Linked DNA regions of Homo sapiens: region 2 is reported to be linked to region 1. The links are microRNA targets in miRTarBase. Many come from high-throughput screens and were not tested one by one. Region 1 holds a microRNA gene; the other region holds the end of a gene's coding sequence.

Region 1 (3,000 bases):
ACTGAAATGTAGATGCAGCTGGGTATGCTGGCACCAAGTAGGAACATGTAATTTGTTGTGTGGTACTTAAGACTTAAACAGACATAAGGCATAGAACGACTGCAGTGTTAAGAACCATATTAACTTGTCTGACAACTACATTTTTAAAAAAAGATTATTAAACCAGCCAAATGTGACAACAGACAGCAACATAACATTATACAGCAAGAGAAGTGTATCAACATCATGGTAGATTTACACTGTAAAACCTTTTCTATTTTAAAATGATCTTCAGAAAGTCTTAATTCCTTAAGAAATGGAGTAAAGTGCTGTTTTTATAGCATAAATTGGTACTTCTTGCACTAATCTAGGAACATTCATGGAGTACCCACTGTCTGTAGAACTAGTGCCAGGAACAAAAACAAGTACAGGATACCAAGCTTTCTAATCTCACTGAGACAGGGGACACACAGCTGGTAACAGAGCTACAAAGTGCCAAATGGTGCCACCTTTTATTAGTGACATCTGAAACTAACTTGGGTCTTATGTCCAGACTTGAGTGGAGTTGAGGCTCCTTGCTAGTTTACCCCAGAACTCTTCTGGAAATCAAACGTTCCAGAGACAGGTCCAGGCTTCAACATTCTGGACCAGTTTGGCATCGAAATACCTCCAGCCTCTAACAGTTGTCCAGAGGTCTGCCCACAAGCACAGGCTATGCAAGTTAATTACGAGGACAGTCTTAAGTTGCCTTATAGTTACCTAGACCTTTCCCCTACATAATTTCCAGAAGTAGTAACAGTGAAGGAATTGAATACCTCTTCCTATGGACAGCAGGAAACTGCTATCCCTTTCCTCCTCCACAAAGGAAATAACTTCCCACTGTCTTTTAAGGAAACAGAGAAACTTCTATCAATCTATCAGCGATTGTCCTTTCATAAGCTGAAGCTGCCGGTGGCAACATGTAGCTTCTACATTTGCCTTCTCCAGAGAGCCCCTGAGAGAGACTAGGGGTCATTAGAAGGGAAATAAATATTTTATTTTGGGAAAGAGAAAATTATAACCACTTATTTGAATTTGAATAAGGTTTGTACATATCAATGTAAACCAACAAAACAATCAAGCAGAAGTCCCCAAAACTTGTCCTTTTCAATCCTTCTTCAATGAATAACACATTGAAATATTTGGTTTTACATGTTTCATTTACCATATTTAGCTAAAAGAACCATCTTTGTGTTACATGCAGTCACAGAAGACTACACGCAACTGAAAAGAAATTCAACAGGGCTGGGCGTGGTGGCTCATGCCTATAATCCCAGCACTTTGGGAAGCCAGGGCAGGTGGATTGCTTGAGCTCAGGAGTCCAAGACCAGCCTGGGCAACATGGTGAAACCCTGTCTCTCACAAAAACAGGAACATTAGCTAGGCATGGTGGCACATGTCTGTGGTCCCAGATACTCAGGAGGCTGAGGTGGGAGGATCACTGGAGTCCAGGAAGTTGAGGCTGCAGTGAGCTGAGATCACGCCACTGCACGCCAGCCTGGGTGACAGAGCAAGACCCTCAAAAAAAAGAAGAGAAATACAACAGTAAAAGGAGTTTTATGGAAAATGTAACCCAATGGAACATATACCTTTTTACTACCTTACTCAAAATTGTTACAGCCACTTTATTAGAACAGCAGTTTACCAGAATACCGATTAAAAATCTACAAAAAACTATAAAATTAAAGCAAGCAATAAACATCTAATTAATATCTAATTACCTTTCTGAAATAAGAGTTGTGATCAGTAAATTAGAGACAATCACAAAATAATGCTAAACCGCTTTAAATTTCCCTTTAGAAATCTCTTAAAATGTTGTTCAACGGGCCATGATCTGTGGTATAAGATACCAGGTATGGCTATAAAGTAACTGAGACGGATCCCACAAACGACATATGACAATCAGTCTCATTGCTTTATAATCACACCAGGTACAAACGGTTTTAGAAATCAGTTGAGGCTCCCTCTTGAAGACTCAAGCTGGAAAAGGAGTAGGGAAAGGAGTAGGGAAAGGAGTAGGGAAAGGAGTAGGAAAGGAGTAGGGAAAGGAGTAGGAAAGGAGTAGGGAAAGGAGTAGGAAAGGAGTAGGGGAAGGAGTAGGGAAGGAGTAGGGAAAGGAGTAGGGAAAGGAGTAGGGAAAGGAGTAGGGAAAGGAGTAGGGAAAGGAGTAGGGAAAGGAGTAGGGAAAGGAGTAGGAAAGGAGTAGGAAAGGAGTAGGGAAAGGAGTAGGAAAGGAGTAGGGAAAGGAGTAGGGAAAGGAGTAGGAAAGGAGTAGGAAAAGGAGTAGGAAAGGAGTAGGGAAAGGAGTAGGGAAAGGAAAGCTGAACAGGTAGCCAAGGAAACCAATCCATGTGATTCTATTCAAAGAACACTAAATAAGAACACCAACTAATTTCAACGGGAAAGCTGTTTGGGAAAAGAAGTGTGTAATTATTTCAACCATCCATTCAACAATATTTATTGAGCACATACTATGATCAGGCTCCTTTCACCTCTTAAAGAGAGTAGAAAATTACCTGCTCTTGATGCAAAAATCCACACGCCCTCAGGAGCAAAGGGGGAACCTTTTGGACTAGGAAGAGAAGCCGCTCGCGGTGGCGTCATTACACCAGCACAGAGAAGAGCCGGGCAGAGGAGCCCGACCCTGCCGATCGGGCAGGAGGACAGCAGAACGAAAGCCCGCCACCAACTTGCAAAGGACTGGAGTTTTAGGTCTTAAATCTTTTACAGAATCTGGCGAAAGTTATATAGGAGTCCCCTCCTAGGAGAAAGGGCCTTCTCCCCATACTCCACCCCTAAAGCCTGATAGGGCTCAAAGACCCTGACCTAAAGCTGCCTCAGACACTTGACTTTTAAGGATCTGAGGAGCTCTGGCCCAGTTTCACGCCAAAGGAAATGTAGGCTTCACAATAAAGGGCCGGTCAGAGGAGGCAGTGACTGAAAAGAGTGAAGAATAATTAGACTGTAACGCTGTAAATATCA
Region 2 (3,000 bases), not on the chromosome of region 1:
AATGCTGCCTTTAAAGATGTGGCCCTGGTCCTGACTGTTCTGCTAGAGGAGGAAACATTAGAAGCAAGTGTAGGCCCAAGGGAAACGGAAGAAAAAGTGAGAGACTTACTCTGGGCCAAGTTTACCAACTCTGACACTCCCACCTCCTTCAACCACATGGACTCAGACAAATTGAGTGGGCTGTGGAGCCGAATTTCACACCTGGTACTGCCAGTCCAGCCAGTGAGTAGCATAGAAGAACAGGGGTGCCTTTTCTAAAGCTAAGCACAGAGTTGGTTACAGAAGGTATATGTTTATGAAAAAGTTTGTTTAAAGACCTTCCATTTATATGGAAGGAGGTTGATAAAATAGCTTGAGGAAATAGCCTGAAAAACAAAGATGAGCTTATTTTAGAAACAAGTTTTTATTTTTTATTCCTTGTAAAATCTTTCTAATCTAAGCCTTGACAAAGCTAAAAATTAACCTGACTTTTTTTCTTTGGACCAAATCAGGTTTGAAATATCGATGATATATATGAGAATTTTTTTTAAATTCTAAAATATAGCAACATTGCACAGGAAGATACTCTTACTTCTTAGAGTAACTACAGAGTGATTTTTTTTTTTTCTTGAGTGAGACTCTGAAGAACCTTTTCGATAATGTTTGGACTTGGACTAAAGCAATTAGAATTATGAAGCAATGATAACCTTTAGAAAATTTTTCTATCACATGTTGAATATTTTCAAACCTTACTTTAATAATCTAAAGTTACGGGATTATATCTTATATTAATTTTGCAGTTTTGAGTAGTATGATAAAAGAAATAAGAATTCAAACCATTAAGTACCTACCTAAATACTACATGTAAGGCACTGTGCTTTTATTTCATTCAGCTGAGGTATAAGCAGCTGTACTCAAATGTTCTTAAAAATGAGAACCAGTGGGGAAATTGTTTATAATCATTGGAAATGAAGAAATTCCAATTGGCTATATCTTTACTTCAGCTTTTCTTGAACAATTTACAGCATTGATTTTCAAACTGTGTCTACTGGCACCCTTCCCCTTTGTATCAGAGCAGTTCTGCTTTTAACTGTTTTATATGTTGGGGTTCTCTATGAGATTTCATTGGAACAAAGAGTTTCACTGATATTCGAGTTTGAAAACCATTGATTAAGTGAAAAAACATCTTAGAAGATAGGAAATATGTTTAAAAAATGAATGTATTAAATCTTATGAGTAGGAAGATGAAATACAGGTTTATTGTATAGATACATTATTTATGAAGGATAAAGATCTATACATGAACAGCAGAATGTATAAGCTAGCATTTACTAGCATGTCTCTGATGCTTTTGTTCATTTCTGTTAATCGTCATTTCTGTCCCCTCTGCATGGAATTTTATACTTGTCTAGGGTAAGAGTTTGTAGACTCTTTCAGCAGAACAGATTTTAATAACCAATTTATTTGTTTTATTTTAAAAATTTATTTTTGAATAACCAATTTAATAGTAAATTTTATATGAACATTTGGCATAACTTTACCAGTTTATTTCTATGCAGTGATGGAACATTATGTAATGCAGCTCATTTCTTGACCAACTAGTTATAGAAGTACCATTAGGTTAAAAATTAGAGAAATCTAAGAGATGTTATACTTAGTGAGAGGAAGCAGAAATGGTGGGTAGATTCTCAGAGGTTTTGATGTTCAGTACTGACGGACCATGTTCTGTGATTGTAAGAAAGATTGAAAACAGTTTGTATGGAGATAGAGTTGATTAGCATTTGAGCTCTGAAAGCAGAACTCTAGTAAAATGATCTCGACCTAACAAAGGGTCTGTTCCATTATATAGACTATTACCATAATCCTGGATTATTTCAACTGGGTTTTGGCCTCTCCATTATATGAGATCATATGTATATAGCTAAGAAGTCTGATTAAAGTATGGAAAGATTTTAGGAAACACTAAGAAGATACAGGGATCTTTACTGATACCTAAAAAGATTACAATTGAGTAATTGCTCAATTGAGTGTAGGGGCATACCTGAAGGAAGAATTTGCATTTGGGACTTCGAAGGAAGCTTCCAAGAGATTTGGGAAGAGACCTGAACAAAAAGTTAAAGCATGGTGAATGTGATATCACTGTCAATCCAGTATAAAAGCAGAGGAAGTTGAAGGAAAATCTGTATCCCATATGCACATTTTTTCTGTCTTTTTAGATCTTAGATGCTAGCGTTACATCCACAAAACCAGTGTTGCCTTGTATAACTATTATATTGGCCTGCTGACCTGTGCTACCTCAGATCTGTCAAGGAACCAGTATGTCGCATATTCTTGTTTCTTCATTCAGTTGAATATGGTTTTTCATCATTTCTCTTCAAAATAATTTAGAAAAATAAATTTCTAAAGTCATAATTTTTAATTTAGCCTTTTTAAAAACATTTTCCCTTCCATGTATAGTGCAATCAATTGAGGGTGTTGTCAGTTTTCTGTCTGCTATTTCAAAAGTCTTTTTTTTTTTTTTTTTTTTTTGAGATGGAGTCTCACTCTGACTCCCAGGCTGCAGTGCTGTGGCTTGATCATAGCTCACTGTAGCTTTAAACTCCTGGGCTCAAGCAATCCTCCCACCTTAGCCTCCTGAGTAGCCGGGACTACAAGTGCAGACTACCACACCACTCTACCACACTATTTTGTATAGAGACAGGGTCTTACTGTGTTGCCTAGGCTGGTCTTGAACTCCTGGCCTCAAGTGATCCTCCCACCTCAGCGTCCCAAAGTGTTTGGATTACAGATGTGACCCAATGCACCCAACCAAACTTCTTTTTTTTTTTTTTTTTTTTTTGAGAGAAGGTCTTGCTCTGTCACCCAGGCTGGAATGCAGTGCAGTGGCACAATCTCATCTCACTGTAACCTACACCTCCTGGGTTCAAGTGATTCTTGTGCCTCAGCCTCCCAAGTAGCTGGGATTACAGGCATGCACCACAATGCCCAGCTAATTATTGTATTTTTAATAGAGACGAGGTT

Evidence for each region. The annotated mature microRNA hsa-miR-340-3p reads UCCGUCUCAGUUACUUUAUAGC and lies in region 1 at 1,877-1,898, opposite strand. An mRNA with a match to its seed (bases 2 to 7 or 8) in the 3' UTR can be bound and repressed. Matches are read on the target gene's strand: a 7mer-m8 pairs with bases 2 to 8, a 7mer-A1 pairs with bases 2 to 7 and ends in A, and an 8mer does both.
Region 2: the mRNA of TOR1AIP2 is a reported target of hsa-miR-340-3p. The part of its 3' UTR that is shown has no 7-base or 8-base seed match.

The regions. Positions count from the first base shown.
Region 1 is chr5:180,013,443-180,016,442 of GRCh38, forward strand. It overlaps MIR340 (microRNA 340), which reads right to left and starts at 1,955; the gene lies at 1,861-1,955. All of the region lies in intron 2 of RNF130 (ring finger protein 130), which reads right to left.
Region 2 is chr1:179,843,329-179,846,328 of GRCh38, reverse strand. TOR1AIP2 (torsin 1A interacting protein 2) reads left to right here. Exons shown (of 7, transcript NM_001199260.2): 7 at 1-3,000. The coding sequence ends at 258. Among named protein-coding and RNA genes, the nearest start is that of LINC02818, 8.2 kb to the right of the region's middle.